Linked DNA regions of Homo sapiens: region 2 is linked to region 1. The links come from fine-mapping of genetic effects on gene expression. Tissue or cell type: whole blood. Region 1 holds a variant in brackets; the other region holds the start of a gene. All regions are shown on one strand. Distances are from middle to middle.

The links. PIP is the estimated chance that this variant, and not a neighbour inherited with it, causes the effect.
Region 2: NFATC2IP starts here. The variant in region 1 is fine-mapped to the expression of NFATC2IP in whole blood (INTERVAL, PIP above 0.99).

Annotation. Positions count from the first base shown.
Region 1 is chr16:28,821,518-28,829,619 of GRCh38, reverse strand. ATXN2L (ataxin 2 like) reads right to left here and starts at 6,621. Exons shown (of 22, transcript NM_007245.4): 1 at 6,062-6,621; 2 at 4,218-4,254; 3 at 3,940-3,996; 4 at 3,779-3,850; 5 at 3,230-3,380; 6 at 2,634-2,758; 7 at 128-219. The coding sequence starts at 6,360. LOC124903672 (a long non-coding RNA gene) reads left to right here and starts at 5,578. Exons shown (of 2, transcript XR_007065042.1): 1 at 5,578-5,726. RefSeq lists a silencer at 5,415-6,564 and enhancers at 6,885-7,094, 6,606-7,342. The variant T/A (reference allele first, on the strand shown) is at 3,606.
Region 2 is chr16:28,946,037-28,954,138 of GRCh38, reverse strand. It overlaps NFATC2IP (nuclear factor of activated T cells 2 interacting protein), which reads right to left and starts at 3,202. Exons shown (of 8, transcript NM_032815.4): 1 at 2,741-3,202; 2 at 1,935-2,007. The coding sequence starts at 3,127. NFATC2IP-AS1 (NFATC2IP antisense RNA 1) reads left to right here. Exons shown (of 2, transcript NR_186408.1): 2 at 1-1,237. RefSeq lists silencers at 2,747-2,866, 3,007-3,106 and enhancers at 2,826-3,326, 3,346-3,880.

The DNA.
Region 1 (8,102 bases):
GAGTAGGGATGGCGACCCTGGACACCCAGAGAAAAATGAGCAAAAACTATGTTCTACCTGGAAACCTGTCTTCACTTAGTGACCCCATATCACCAACACATCACCTGGAGAGCACCAAGATACTCACGTATAAGAAGAAAGACTGCTATCATAGGTAGTCTTCACACCGTAGTTCTCCTCATTGAACTTGAACATTTCATTGGGGTCCCATCCATTGGACTGGGGAGGGAGGAAGGTGGTTTTAAAACCCAGCAGGAAAAGCAACGACAAGTCACTTCCCTTCCATCAGGTTAAAAACTCCAAGATGTGAACAAATTGGCTGGGCACAGTGGCTGAAACCTGTAATCCCAGTACTTTGGGAAGCTGAGGCAGGAGGCTCTCCTGAGGCCAGGAGTTTAAGGCCAGACTGGGCAACACAGCAAGAGCTCATCTCTAGAAAAAAATAATGAAACAGCCGGGTGTGGTGGTGCATGCCTGGGGTCCTAGCTACTCGCTACTCAGGAGATTGAGGAGAGAGGATCACTTGAGCCCAGGAGTTTGAGGCTGCAGTGAATTATTATGGCACCACTGCGCTCTGGCCTGGGCGACTAGCTGGGCGTGGTGGCTCATGCCTGTAATCCCAGCACTTTGGGAGGTGGGTGGATCACCTGAGGTCAGGAGATCAACCTGACCAACATGGTGAAACCCCGTCTCTACTAAAAATAAAAAATTAGCCATCCGTGGTGGCGCATGCCTGCAGTCCTGGCTGAGGCAGAAGAATCGCTTGAACCTGGGAGGCAGAGGTTGCAGTGAGCTGAGATCGAGCCACTGCACTCCAGCCTCCAGCCTGAGTGACAGAGTGAGACCCTGTCTCCAAAAAAAACAAAAACAAAAACAAAAACAAACAACTACAACAAAAACCCGGGCAACAGAGCAAGCTCGTCTCAAAAATAAACGACAAAACAAGAGTGGAAAAAAAATTGGAACGTGGCTGGCAAAAGTAATCAACTAATAATTGTAATTAATAACTGCAATTTTTTTTTTTTTTTTGGAGACAAAGAGTTTCACTCTTGTTGCCCAGGCTGGAGTGCAATGGTGCGATCTTGGCTCACCGCAACCTCCGTCTCCTTGGGTTCAAGCGATTCTCCTGCCTCAACCTCACGAGTAGCTGGGATTACGGGCATGTGCCACCACGCCCAGCTAATTTTGTATTTTTAGTAGAGATGGGGCTTCTCCACGTTGGTCAGGCTAGTTCCAAACTCCCAACCTCAGGTGATCTGCCCGCCTTGGCCTCCCAAAGTGCTGGGATTACTGGTGTGAGCCACCGCGCCCGGCCTGCAACTGTTAATGATTACTAACAACTGCAGCAGAAATTATCAATAACTAGTAAACCTGAAAAGTCATAAGACCTAACAATTCTATTTCCAAGACATCCCAGAAAAATTCTGGCACATGTGCGTGGGGAATATATGTTCTAAAAGTCCAGCAAGGTACTATTTTTAGTAGCAAAATAATGGCAACCAAATGCAGATGATTAAGGAAAAGGACAAATACAATTTGCTGTGTACACGTGTGTGTGTATATTTGAAAACAGCACACAACAATAGAAGCAAAGAACTAGATCTACGTACAACCATGAGAAGTTCGAAAAGGCAAGAAAAGCAAATTCTTGTACAAACTAAACATAACAAAACAATAATATATTCATTCACAAGACATTTGTTTCTCAACAGATAGTCTCGCTATGATGCCCAGGCTGGAGCACAGTGGCCATTCACAAGTTGAGTCATAGTGCACCAAAGCTTCAAATGATTCTCCTACCTCAGCCTCCTGAGTAGCTGGGACTACAGGTGTGGGACCACCACGCTCAGCTCTATTCATGAGCGGTTTTTATTTATTTTTTTGAGACATCCTCACTGTCGCTCAGACTGGAGTCCAGTGGCACAATCTCAGCTTACAGCAGCCTCAAACTCCTGGGCTCAAGTGATCGGAGCTCCTGCCTTGGCCTCCCAAGTAGCTGGGACTACAGGCATGAGCCACTGCGCTCAGCCTCATGAGATTTTAAATGCCTCAGAGTAGCTGATTTTGGGAAGAGAAATGGGCCTACACATTAATCTATACTTTTTGTTATGTTGAAAAATAACGTGATGCAAATGCTAGGAGTGGTTAATTATAGATAGTAAGAGAGTAAGTTGATGTTTTGGTTTTGTTGCGTGTGACACGGTCCACCCAGGCTGGAGTGCAGTGGTATGATCACAGCTCACTGTAGCCTCGACCTCCCTGGGCTCAAGTGATCCTTCCACTTCAGCCTCCCAAGTAGCTGGGACTACAGGTACATGCCACCAAACCTTGATAGCTTTTATATATCTTGTTGAGACAGGGTTTCACCATGTTGCCCAGACTGGTCTCGAAATCCTTGCCTCAAGTGACCCACCGGCCTTGGCCTCCCAAAGTGCTGGGATTACAAACATGAGCCACTGCACCCAGCTAAGAATAGATATTTTTACTTTGCTATTTTCTATACCTTTCTATTTGTTATCTGACTACCATCAATGGGCAACAGTAAATATTTCCCTCCCCACTCAAATGAACCTCACTGTCAACAACCCATTCTGTCTGTCCAGCTCCCAAGTTCTCAGGGAAGGAGGCTATACCATGTCAGACTCGAGGTCATAGTCGTCGCTGTTGCTGTCACCCCCCTCCCAGCGCTGAAGCACCTTCTCTTTGTGTTCCCCATTCACTTTCGAGTTCATGGCAATGGCTGAATCGGTGAACTTGTCTGTGGGGGCAGAGGTGAAGATCAGGAGTCAGGCTATATTTCACAGACTTCTTTCCAATATCCCCCAACCCCACTCTCCGTAAGTAGTTCAGGAACAAAGTTTAAGAAGTCCAGAGTACGTGTGCCCGTGTGTTAGGATGGCCAGGGGGTGGGGAGGCAAGAGAAGAAGAGTATAAAAAGTCTATCAGTACTATGATTCCAAAGAAAAAAGAAGTTAAAAACCAAGCAAAGAAAATATGAAGAACCACAACACAGACAGGAATTCATCGCATTATATATTAGACATCAAGACATATTTTTAAGAAGAAAAATCCACCCACTTCGCTCAGGAAAAAAAAGGCATTAAAGCAAAACAAACAAACAAAAACAAAAAAACAAACCAAACACATCACCATGTTCCACCTGCACACAAACTACCCTCTGTCCTCTATGCACACAGAGCAGGTCTGAGGTAACAGCCTAGGACAATACCTTTAGTAGCATAGTTGAAGTCAACATTTCGGAAGTGAACAAGCATGACATCACTTGGCTTAAACACCATGGTGTCCACAATGTCCTCCCGACGAGGGCCACCTGCTGGCTCAGATGCTTTCCGGTGCACAGCATCCACGGCTAGTTCAAACTACAAACACCCCATTCCCCACACCCATGGGTCAGTTTCAAGAAAAGTGAAGGCAAAAATAGAACTGGATTTCTCTTAAATAGAACTGGATTTCTCTTACCCTTCCCAAACTTTTCACAACACTACATCCTCAACATGCTTGGAACCAAGTGCATTGTTTTCTCAACATCAGCCACAGGACTTAGCAAAAGTCTCACAAAAATTTAAACTTAAATATTTTAACAT[T/A]AAAGTACCCAGCCCTCAAATTTGTCTTTTTTCCCTGCAGCACTATTCAGCACAGGCCTACAGAAACAACTAAAGGCATACTCTGACATCACCCAATTGACACCTTCAATGAGCCTATTTCATTCTCCTCCTACTCTGCAACTCCAAAAATAATTAAATTTGAGTACACTGACCTTTGAGCTTAGCGTCTTGAAGATACCCTCATAAGTGGTACCATTTTTCACCTTTACATCACAAGTGGAGCCCTGGCAGAGTGGGAAAAATAAGAAGAGTGTCTCCAGAAAGTAGATGCATTACGTTCCTTAAACAACCCGGGGGTTAAGTACCAACTTACCACAACAGCTGTAAGGAAATGCAGCATTCTGGAATTGTTGTAGACGCCTTCAAACACCTGTCAGTTAACATAAGAGGGAGAATTAAAGGAGTAATCAGTCAACACCTCATTTTCTTTTCTAAATGCCCGCCGCACTCTACTCATTCTGCCTTGTGTGTGCCGGGCCCACAGCCCTCCTGAGTACATTAGACTCTATCTAGACCTAATGTGCCCTATATTCCCACATTATGCATCTTTTAGGTCTATGTATCTTAAACAGGGTGGGAGAAGACACTCACAGGTGACTGTGGGGGTCCCTTTCCTGTGCTCTGTCCCCTATAAAAGAAAACAAGAAATTACTTAAGTCTGTTCAAGCCCTCTTAGACCACTATGAAATTAATGTTAAATCCTAGAAGTATATACCACCTGATGATGCTGATTTAGACTACAAAATTGTTAATCAGTAAGATTTTTCTATTTTTTTTGAGACAGGGTCTCCCTCTGTTGCCCAGGCTGGGGTGCAGTGGCGTGATCTCAGTTCACTGTAGCCTCAACCTCCAAGGCTCAAGTGATCTTCCTGCCTCAGCCTCCCGAGTGGCTGAGACTATAGGTACGAACCACCACTCCTGGCTTTTTTTTTTTTTAATTTTTAGTAGAGATGGGATTTCCCATCTGTGTTGCCCAGGCTGGTATCGATCTCCTTGGGCTCAAGGGATCCTCCCACCTTTGCCTCCTAAAGTGCTGGCATTACAGGCGTGAGCCACTGCGCCCGGCCAATAAATAAGATTTTCAAACTGTCACCTTGTAGAGGAAGAAAAAAATAGACATTAATAAGCCAGCAAACACATTTCCTCCAAATGCCAGCAAAAAGATCTCAATCAACAATGGTTGTCAATTGCTCTAAGAACCAACGAGAAAGGGGCTAGGGCTGCAGGCTACCAACAGATCAATGCTACAGTATTAACCAAAAAGCCACGCCAGCTGTGAGGGCAAAAGCTCCAGGAGTGCAGCTTTGGAACTACCTAGCTCAGGTACATTACCTCCCAAACAGAAAAGACAATCATTTTCAGCAGCCTGACGCCTCAAAACTGTGGGAGGAGGGGTATCCCCTCCACACCCCATCCCCTCGACCTCATGACTCATTCAGCCCGTTACCCACTCTGCGGGGATCACCAATCGCCAGGTAACCCTGCTCGTCGCTGGCTGATGTAACCGGCGGTTGAGGGCGAAGAGGGGGCCGCTGGCGGGGCTGGGGGACAGCGCAGCCGCAAAAGCCATCCACCGGGAGGCCTCGCCCGGTCTGCGCCTGCGCACTAAAACCCACGGGACTTTCCGAACCCCCACCTCCAGCGATCAGAGCCCACTGCGCCTGCGTGTGCTGCCACTCTTAATTCCATTAACACACACACACTCGCACAGGAAAAACTGAGCAGGGCCTCCACTACTCATGCACTGCCACCAGACGAGCCCCTCCACGAACTAGTCCCTGCCCTAGGTGTTCCCGGGGCGCGCGAATGCCCGGGTCATGAGACCGAGCATCCACGCGCACGTACGGGAAGGGGGCGCGCGCGCCAGAGGCTCCCGGCCCGCAGTCCTCCCAGTCATCCCTCCTTCCGTCCCCCCGCCCACCTCGCTCCCCTCCTACTGGCCAGACCGGGAAGGGGGAGGCAGCAACCCGCTCCCAAGTCCCTCCCTCCCCATTGGCCAAACTGTGGGCCGCGCGCCCCCCTCCATTGGCTACGGCCGGGGACCCCTTCCCGCAGCAGACTCCCCATTGGCTGAAGCCGGGGACCGCGAGACCCTTCGTGGTAATGGAACCGGGGACCCCGATCAGCTCCTTGCCCCCCCCCAACTCCCCGTTCCGACGGCGCCGGCGGGATGCGCCCCGCCTCCCCTGAAGGCCGGGGCTGCGAGCCCTGACTAGGCCCCGAGAGCCGAGCGCGGCCCCTCAGTGCTCCGGTGGCCGCCCGGGGACCCTTTCCGTCCGACCTGTTCGGACCTGAGGGGGCCCTCCCCCAGCTTCACGGGGACTCCCCACCCAGCCGGTGCCCCTGACGGTGCCGGGTCGGGGTCCGCCCCACCGGAACCGAGCCACAGCCTCTGGGTGGCCGCGGCTCCCTCGCCCGGAGCCCACCCTTCTCACCTGGCGCTGCCGATGGCGGCTGCCCCCGGCCTCTCCTGGTGTTGCTGCGGCGGCGGCGGCTGCGGCGCCAAGATGCCTTCGGCTCCCCGGCGGAGCCCGCTCCCGGCAGCGGCCACAGGCCCCAGGCAGGGGGAGGCGGCCGCTGGAGGCCCGGGAGGAGCCGCAGAGGTGGCCAGCGGCCCCGGGAGGCCGCCGTTGGGAGGGCTGGTGCCCCCGGGGGGCCGACGGGCCACGGCCTGTTGCGTGGGGGGCGGCTGCTGGGGCTGGGAGGGCTGTTGTAGCGGCTGAGGCTTCAACATGATGGCAGCGTCCGGAAGGGGAATTAGAGAGAAGGGAGGGAGAGAGGGGGCCGGGGCTGGGGCCCCGCTGGAGAGCGCGGGAAGCGAGGGGGATCGGGCAGCCGGGGCCCGCCGTGGGCGGGCGGGGGGAGCCCCGCGGTGTCGGGGGTGGAGAGAGAAGACCGCGGCGCGAGGAAGCGCCGCGAGGCGGAAGGGGAGGGGGTCTCGCGGCTGGAGGAAAGCGAGAGGGCGCGAGCCGGGCTGGCGCGCGTGCGCGTCGCCGGGGAGCGGAGAGGGAGGAGCGCGCGGGTGGGAGCTCCCGGGGGGGGGGGGGGGGGGGGGGGGCCAGGAGCGAGCAGTGGCGCGAGGTGCCGCGCACACCGGCGCGGTTAGCTCCCGGCGGGAAAGTGGGAGAGAATCAAGTCGGTGAACCTCGCACCCCTAGCCCTGGGAGTGGGTAAGGAGCGGCGCGGGCGCTCACGCGCGCCAAGGATTTAGGGTCTTAAGGTCTCAAACCGCCTTAGAAGCCGGCGGCCGCTGTCGCTTCACAATGAGCGTGTGAGGCGCAGGGGGAGGAGCCGAAGGCGCCAGAGGAAGGGCCGGCCTCTCCGCCCACGCCGTCGCTGCGTCGCGATGCCTCCGCGGGAGTGTGAGGCGGCACGTCGTGCGTGAGGCTCTTCCGCCACTTGGCGGCCCGTGGGCAGAGCCTTAAGTGCCAAGAAAGTCTCCGGGACTGGACCACCCGAGCCACTGCGCTTTTAGGCAGGTGGTAGGTTTCGCAAGGAGCTACCCTCCACCTTGTTTGCTTTAAGTAAAAGACTGATGAGCATTAGTGATTCGTTTGAGCGTGTTGATCTTTGCAGATAAATTTACGCCTCGTCCTAAATTATTTCAGATTTTTGTGATTTTGACCTAAATTGTTCCTCCATGCCCGAGAATGAATCTTTAAACTGTAATAACAAAGACTGAAGGCCAAAGTTCCGAGTTCAAAATCCTCCACCCGACCCTGCAATGAAGGCAGCTTCATTCATTCAAAATGAGTTGGGCATTGGAGTATTCAGTTAGTTGTTTTGGACACAAGGATAATTAAACTGCTTCCTGCTCTGGAGGAGTTCATGCTAGTGGTGAATTCAGAGAATTTGACGAGATCTAGTAGGTGAAGCACAGAGGACTACAAGAGCAAATGGGAGTGACACCTAATCTTAATCCAGTTTTGGGAGACCCAGATAAGGGACAGGAGGGCCGGGCGCAGTGGCTCATACCTGTAATCCTAACATTTTGGGAGTCCGAGGCAGAAGGATCGTTTAAGGCCAGGAGTTTGAGACCAGCCTAGGCAACAAAGTGAGACTTTGTCTCTACAAAAAAAAAAAAATTTAAATTATAAAAAAAAACTGATAAGAGGGCAGGGGGAGATGGGTTTCTAGGCAGGGAAATAGGATATGACAAACTAAGAAAAACTCAGCTTGTCCTAAGCATAAAATTAAAGGGGGGAAGAGGTAGCTAATCTGGGATCAGGTTTTAAAGGCTCCCAAGTCTTGTAAGAGACACGGACATTATCCTCAAAGCAGTGGGGAGCTTATTTAAGAAAGTGAAAAGAGGCTGGGCATGGTCTGTAATCCCAGTACTTTGGGAGGTTTGAGGTCAGGAGTTTGAGATCAGCCTGGCCAACATGGTGAAACCCTGTCTCTACTAAAAATGCAAAAATTAGCTAGGCGTGGTGGTGCATGCCTGTAATCCCAGCTACTCAGGAGGCTGAGGCAGGA
Region 2 (8,102 bases), 120 kb before region 1:
CAAAATGTGGAGGGCGAGGGGGCTGAGGTATAATACTTCCCAGGGATGGAAGTCAGGATGCCGCTAAACTTTCTACAATGCACAGGACAGTTTCCAACACCAAAGAATTTTCCAGTCCAAAAAATGCCAGTAATGCTGAAGTCATGAAATCCTGTCCTAACTAACTATGGCAGCTGCAAGAGGCCTATGATTCTGCATTTCGTTTTTCTTTTTTTTTTTTTGAGACCAGGTCCTACTGTGTCACCCAGGTTGGAGTGCAGTGGCATGATCATGGCTCACTGCAGCCTCGACTTCCTGGGCTCAGGTGTTTCTCCCACCTCAGCCTCCTGAGTAGCTAGGACTACAAGTACACATCACCATGCCTGGTTAATTTTTTATTTTTCTGTAGAAACAGGGTCTCATCATGTTGCGCAGGCTGGTCTCGAACTCCTGGGCTCAAGCAATCCTCCCATCTCAGCCTCCCAAAGTGCTGGGATTACAGCACTTTGAGCCATTGTGCCCAGCCGATCCTGCATTTCTAGCAAGCTTCCAACGGATGCCATATATGGCTGGGCCCACGTTTTGAGTATCAGGGATAGAGGTACCTTTTACGTAGCACTTCTGTGTCCTAGGTACTGTCCTAAAGCATATATCTAGCCAAGAGGCAGCTCTCTCTATATTCCCTTTCGTTAATTCTCACCAAAATCAGCACCAAAATGGGGTCTACTATTATCCCCACTTTGATAATGAGGAAATTGAAGCACTGAGAAATTAAGAAACTTGCCCAGGCTGGGCGTGGTGGCTCACGCCTGTAATCCCAGCACTTTGGGTGACCAAGGCAGACAGATCACCTAAGGTCAGGAGTTCGAGATCAGCCTGGCCAACATGATGAAACCCCATCTCTACTAAAAATACAAAAAAGCCAGACATGGTGGCGGGCGCCTGTAATCCCTGCTACTCGGGAGGCTGAGGCAGGAGAATGGCTTCAACCTGGGAGATGGAGGTTGCAGTGAGCTAAGATTGCGCCACTACACTCCACCCTGGGTGACAGAGTGAGACTCTGTCTCAAAACAAGAAAAAAGAAACTCGCCTAAGATCACACAGCTATTAAGAGATAGAGCTGAGGCCGGGCACAGTGGCTCACGCCTGTAATCCCAGCAATTTGGGAAGCTAAGATGGGCGGATCACCTGAGGTCAGGAGTTCAAGACCAGCCAGGCCAACATGGTGAAACCCCATCTCTATTAAAAATACAAAAAATTAGCCAGGCGTGGTGGGAATTAGTCAGCTACTGGGAAGGCTGAGGCAGGAGAATCGCTTGAACCCAGGAGGTGGAGGTTGCAGCGAGCCGAGATCGTGCCATTGCACTCCAGCTTGGGCAACAAAAGCGAAACTCTGTCTAAAAAAAAAAAAAAAAAAGAGAGAACTGAGATTCAAACCCAGGCCAGATGGCTCCTGTTTGCTTTTAATCACCCCACTGTACTCCCTCATGGTACAAGAGTCTTGGTCCAAGGTCTCCATTTGCCCACTGGATTATTTCCTTATTAGACTAGATTCCTATTCCCCGCCCTTGAGTTGTTTGCAAAAAATGCATCAGTGGGGGAGGACAAAGACAGGGCATCCCTGATAAGATTCAGAGAACACCCTGCTGGCTCCAGTGTTCCCAAAGAACTTGCTGCAGATGTAACAAGATGTCACAGATTCTCAACACCTTACCGCCTCCTGCCCCGCCCAGGACTACAGAATCAGCATCTCTTCAGGTGGCACCAGAAATGTATACATTAATACATTCTATGCTTGTTAACAATCCAGCTCCTGTGGCTGGGATGCAGGAGTCCCCTCTCCCACGCTCTTCCCTTGAGCCTCAGGAGACAACTGACTGCAGGAATATAAACCCCAGGAATTCTCTTAAGAGAAGCCAGCGGCTGCGTGCCTCTCCCTGGAGGCCCTCCCTTACCTTCCTCATCCCCTGGAGGGTAGAGTTTCAGGAGGGATAGATCATCTGGGATAAGGCGAAGGCTGCTTTTAACCTGCAAAGACAAAGAAGGGAGAGGGGTCAGGCCCAAGTCCTTCCCCTACCGAAAGAAAAAATTGGGGGTAATTCTTCCCTGACACCCAGCTCCCAAATCCTCCCTAAGATCGTGGACACCTTGGCCCTCTCCTGGCAACCTAGAAGTCCAGCTTCCCCAGGATTCAGAATGGAAGTACCCTTCACCCTTTCCTCCATCTGCCTAAGACACTCTGAAATGTATGCTTCCTTGCCCTTTTTAACTAGGTTACTAGCCGCCCCTCTACCCCTGACTCTTAGGGACTCTCAGCCCATTGCTCACACGACCATCGGGGGACCCCAGCCTCTGGAGCCGCCCAGTCCTCTCTGAACCCGCATGGACCCCAACCCCCAATACTGCAGCTCCCTGGCTTCATTTGCCATGGACCCCAACCTCAAAATCCAACGGCCCCAGGTCCTCCCAGTCCCTCTCCAAAATCTCAGGAATCCCAGCTCTTCAGCCTCCCTGTGCCCCCAAGACTCTAGCTCCTAGGAATCCTAAACTTCCAACGCATCCCACCCTCCTTCACCACCCCAGTCTGCAGAAAGTCCCGGAGCCCTGCCTCTCCCTGCCTCCAACACCCTAACGCCCGAGGACCAGCCCCAGAACGCCAGCCTCAACACCCCTATAGCCCTACCCTCCCCGAACGCCGGCCCCTCCCTGGAGGCCAAGCCCTTGGCCCTTCCGCCGGTCCCCTCCCCGGGACCGGGCGCACCTTCCCCGAGTACACCGGAACCAGCGGCGCCTCCCCCGGATCCAGCACCAGCCGCCGCCGCCGCCTGACCGGCTCCCGCGGGGGTCCTGCGGGCCGCCTGTCCTCCCCTTCGCTGTCACTGTTGCTGTTATCCCGGGACGCGACCGGCCCCGGGGGCTCCGGGGGCTCCACCTCAACCTCGTCCGCGGCACCGCGAGCGGTGGCGACCTCCAGAATTTCCTCATCGCTGTCGGTGACCAAGTCCACAGACACTACGTCCAGCGTGCCCCGGGATGGAGACCGCTGGGCCCGAGGACGCCGGCCCCGACCGCCCCAGCCGCCCCGACCCCCTCGGCCGGCACCGCTACCTCCGGACCAGCGGCCCCGCTTCCCCACAGGCTCCGCCATGGCACACTTTCCTCCACAACACACGCCCGCCTCCTCTCGCCTCGCCCCGCCCCCTTCAGCGACTTTCGCCTTGCATTGGACAAACAGCCTGCTCGTCAGCAACTCTTCGCGCCCCACGCGCGGGATCCGCCTTCCCGCCTTTTCATTGGTCTCTGTACCCGCTCATCATGCGCCCACCTCTGAAACCAAGGCGCCAAAGATTCCAATCACCTCGGCACAATCACCGTAGCTTTCGATTCAGTCGGCCTCACCCATTGGCTGGGCCACCTCTCCACAGACGAGCCTCTCCCGGACCCGCCCAACCAAGACAACCGTCTTCCGGCTTGGTTAGTCGCAGGGCATCCTGGGAAATGTAGTCCTCGAGCGGTAAGGTTTCCGGGAGAAGGAAGGCGGGCCTGGAATTCCCTGTGGAAACCGCGGATTTAACCAGGCGCGGTGCCTCACGCCCGTAATCCTGGCACTTTGAAAGGCTGAGGCGGGCAGATTGGTTGAGCTCAGGAGTTTGAGACCAGCCTGGCCAATGTGGCGAAACCGCGTCTCTACTAAGAATGCAAAAATTACCCGGGCGTGGTGGCACCCCTCTGTGGTCCCAACTACTCAGGAGGCTGAGGTGGGAGTTTCGCTGGAGCCCGGGAGGCGGAGATCGCACCACTGCACCCCAGCCTGGGTGACAGGGCGAGACCCTGTCTCAAAAATGCTTTAAAGAAATAATAAGGCTGGCCGCGCGCGGTGGCTCACGCCTGTAATCCCAGCACTTTGGGAGGCCGAGGCAGGCGAATCACGAGGTCAGAAGTTCAAGACCAGCCTGGCCAACACGGTGAAACCCCGTCTCTACTAAAAATACAAAAATTAGGCGGGCGTGGTGGCGTGCGCCTGTAATCCCAGCTACTCAGGAGGCTGAGGCAGGAGAATTGCTTGAGCCCGGGAGGCAGAGGTTACAGTGAGCCAGATCCTGCCGCTGCACTCCAGCCTGGCCGACAGAGCGAGACTCTCTCTCAAAAAAAGAAAGAAAGATAGAAATAATAAGGCTGGGCGTGGTGGCTCACGCCTATAATCCAGCACTTTGGGAGGCCGAGGTGGGCAGATCACCTGAGGTCAGGAGTTCGAGACCAGCCTGACCAACATGGTAAAACCCTGTCTCTACTAAAATACAAAAATTAGACAGGCGTAGTGGCAGGCGCCTATAATCTCAGCTACTCGGGAGGCTGAGGCAGGAGAATCGCTGGAACCCAGGAGGCAGAGGTTGCACTGAGCCAAGATTGTACCACTGCACTCCAGCCTGGGCAACAGAGTGAGACTCCATCTCAAAAAAAAATCTTATGTATTTATTTATTTTTAAATTTTATTTTATTCATTTATTTAATTTTATTTATTTATTTATTTTGAGATGGAGTTTCGCTCTTATTGCCCAGGCTGGAGTGCAATGGCTCGATCTCGGTTCACTGCAACCTCTGCCTCCCAGATTCAAGCAATTCTCGTGCCTCAGTCTCCAAGTAGCTGGGATTGATTACAGGCGTGCACTACCATGCCCAGCTAATTTTGTATTTTTAGTGGAGATGGGGTCTCACCATGTTGGTCAGGCTGGTCTTGAACTCCTGACCTCAGGTGATCCACCCCCCTCCGCCCCCGCCTTGGCCTCCCAAAGTGCTGGGATTACAGGCGTGAGCCACTGCGCCCGACTATTTATTTTATTTTTTTCTTTTTCTTGATTCGGAGTTTTGCTCTGTTGCCCAGGCTGGAGTGCAATGGTGCGATCTCAGCTCATTGCAACCTCCACCTTCAGGGTTCAAAGGATTCTCTTGCCTCAGCTTCCCGAGTAGCTGGGATTACTGTTGCCTGCCACCTTGCCCAGCTAATTTTTGTATTTTTAGTAGAGACGGGGTTTCACCATGTTGCCCAGGCCGGTCTTGAACTCCTGACCTCAAGTGATCCACCTGGCTCGGCCTCCCAAAGTGCGGGGATTACAGGTGTGAGCCACAGCACCCAGCCTGGCATATGTAAATCTTCATGATGGCTACATAAGCCACTTGCCAGTCTCCAAATTCAGGAATTCAAGGACCTGGGAGCCCTGACGAAATGCCGTCGTCAAGGCAGTTAGCTCTCTTGTCTCCCATTTCCCCTAGGAGGGAAAAGCTTGGCTTCAGTCTTGCTCCAAGATGCAGGCTACCTCCTGTCCTAAAGATATGAAAAGTTTGTGTCTACTCACCCCTACCATACAAGCCAATTCAATAACACAGGTGGTCACCCCACTTACCATCATAAAGTTAGACTGGGGCCAGGCGTGGTGGCTCACGCCTGTAATCCCAGCACTTTGGGAGGCCGAGGCGGGTGGATCACTTGAGGTCAGGAGTTCGAGACCAGCCTGGCCAACATGGTGAAACCCCATCTCTACTAAAATACAAAACAAAATTAGCTGGGCATGGTGGTGTGCGCCTGTATTCCTAGCTACTTGGGAGGCTGAGGCAGGAGGATCAGTTGAACCCAGGAGGTGGAGGTTGCAGTGACCCGAGATCGAGCCATTGCCCTCCAGCCTGGGAGACAGAGCCAGACTCTGTTGCAAAAGAAAAAAAAAAAAGCCAGGCGCGATGGCCCATACCTGTAATCCCAGCACTTTGGGAGGCCAAGGCGGGCGGATGACAAGGTCCAGAGATTGAGACCATCCTGGCTAACACAGTGAAACCCTGTCTCTACTAAAAAATACAAAAAATTAGCTGGGCGTGGTGGCGGGCGCCTGTAGTCCCAGCTACTCGGGAGGCTGAGGCAGGAGCATGGCATGAACCCAGGAGGCGCAGGTTGCAGTGAGCCGAGATTGCACCACTGCACTCCAGCCTGGGCGACAGAGCGAGACTCCGTCTCAAAAAAAAAAAAAAAAAAAAAAGGCTGAACTATGTTTGACTAAAGGTGTTGTCACGTCCTCTTACGTGAGGACTAGTCATTGTTTATCTTGAAAACATGGTATTGCAACCACCCCTATAAACTTGAGAAGAAGGGAGAGGGAGAAATGAAAAGAAACCAAACTTGCGGTGCACTCAGCATTGATCTCAGGGCAGCTGCTCCCTGACCTGCTTCCCCAAAGCCATCTGGTGCCTGTTGCCCCACAGTCACACAGCCCCTGTCAGAAGATTATAGTTCCCCTTAACTGCTCTTGAATCACGGCTTGGACATTACATTAGGTGTTCCCTTTGAGATATTCCTTCAGGTCTTGATGGAACTACTGATTCAGCTGACCTGAAGGACCCCACAAGGAGCTGACTCCCCGCAAAATGCAGCTTCTACACCCTGACAATTTCATCCCCCTTCCCAACCAATCAATGACCCCAATATTCCAGCCCATCACTCCCCACAAACCCCTTAAAAGCCCAGCCCAGAACTCCCTGGAGAGAGATTTGAGGGTCTCCTCCCATCACCTCGCTCGGCACCCTGCAATCATTAAACTCTCTCTGCTGCATCCCCACCGTCTCAGAGTCACAGAGCTGTGACTGCACAGTGGGCATATGAACCTGCAGCTCCTGTAACAATATGGAATTTGAAATTTTATCTTGAAAACAGGATAATGGTTTACACCTGCTTGGCTGTAATGAAGGATATTTCTTTTTGCCTTTGCAATCTTTTACCAGATTGCCAGTGATGTGCATCACATTCTAACTTAATGCTTATTCAAGCCGGGTGCAGTGGCTCACGCCTCTAATCCCAGTACTTTGGGAGGCTGAGGTGGTTGGATCACCTGAGGTCAGGAGTTCGAGACCAGCCTGGCCAATATGGTGGTGTATTTTTCTACTAAAAATACAAAAAATTAGCCAGGCATTGTGGTGGGCACCTGTAATCCCAACTACTCCGGAGCCTGAGGCAGGAGGATCACTTGAACCCGGGAGGCAGAGGTTCCAGTGAGCTGAGATTGTGCCATTGCACTCCAGCATGGGCAACAAGAGTGAAACTCCATGTCAAAAAAGAAAGAAAAATTATGCTTATTCAATAATAAAACCAGCCCGGGCATGTTGGCTTATGCCTGTAATCCCAGCACTGGGAGCCTGAGGTGGGAGGATCACTTGAGGTCTAGGGTTCAAGGCCAGCCTGGGCAATATAGCAAGACCCTGTCTCTACAAAAAGTAATAATAATTAGTGGGTGTCGTGATGCACACCTGTAGTCCTAGCTACTTGGGAGGCTGATTGAGCCCAGGAGTTCAAGGCTGCAGTGAGCTATGATCTCACCACTTCACTCGAGCCTGGGCAACAGAGCAAGACCCTCTCTCTAAAAATAAATAAATACATACAATTTAAGGCCAGGCACAGTGGTTCACGTCTGTAATCCCAGCACTTTGGGAGGCCAAGGTGGGAGGATCACTTCAGGCTGAGCGTTAAGACCCGCCTAGGCAATATAGTAAAACCCCCAACTCTACGAAAAATAATAATACATTTTAAAACTTTTTTTTTTTTGAGATGGAGTTCCACTCTTGTTGCCCAGGCTGGAGTGCAGTGGCACAATCTTGGATCACTGCAACCTCCACCTCCCGGGTTCAAGCGATTCTCCTGCCTCAGCCTCCTGAGTAGCTGGGATTACAGACATGCGCCACCACGCCTGGCTAATTTTTTGTACTTTTAGTAGAGATGGAGTTTCACCATGTTGGTCAGGCTGGTCTCGAACTCCCAACCTCAGGTGAGCCGCCCGCCTCAGCCACCCAAAGTGCTGGGATTACAGGCGTGAGCCATCACGCCAGGCCCATTTTACAACTTTTTAACCAAAAATAATAATAAAACTGTTTTCTGTCTCTACTACCTTTGTGGAGAAGTTTGTTGGGTTTAGATATTTTGTTTCTTAATTATATTTCCCAAACACACTCGCCAACACCTCCTACCAACAATATTGTGCACCTCAGAGACTACACGCCCTCCACACATCCACAGCGTTGGCAACTCCTGCACAACATATATCCCAACACAACACAAACACGCCCCTTCAACACTTCACTCTTCCCAC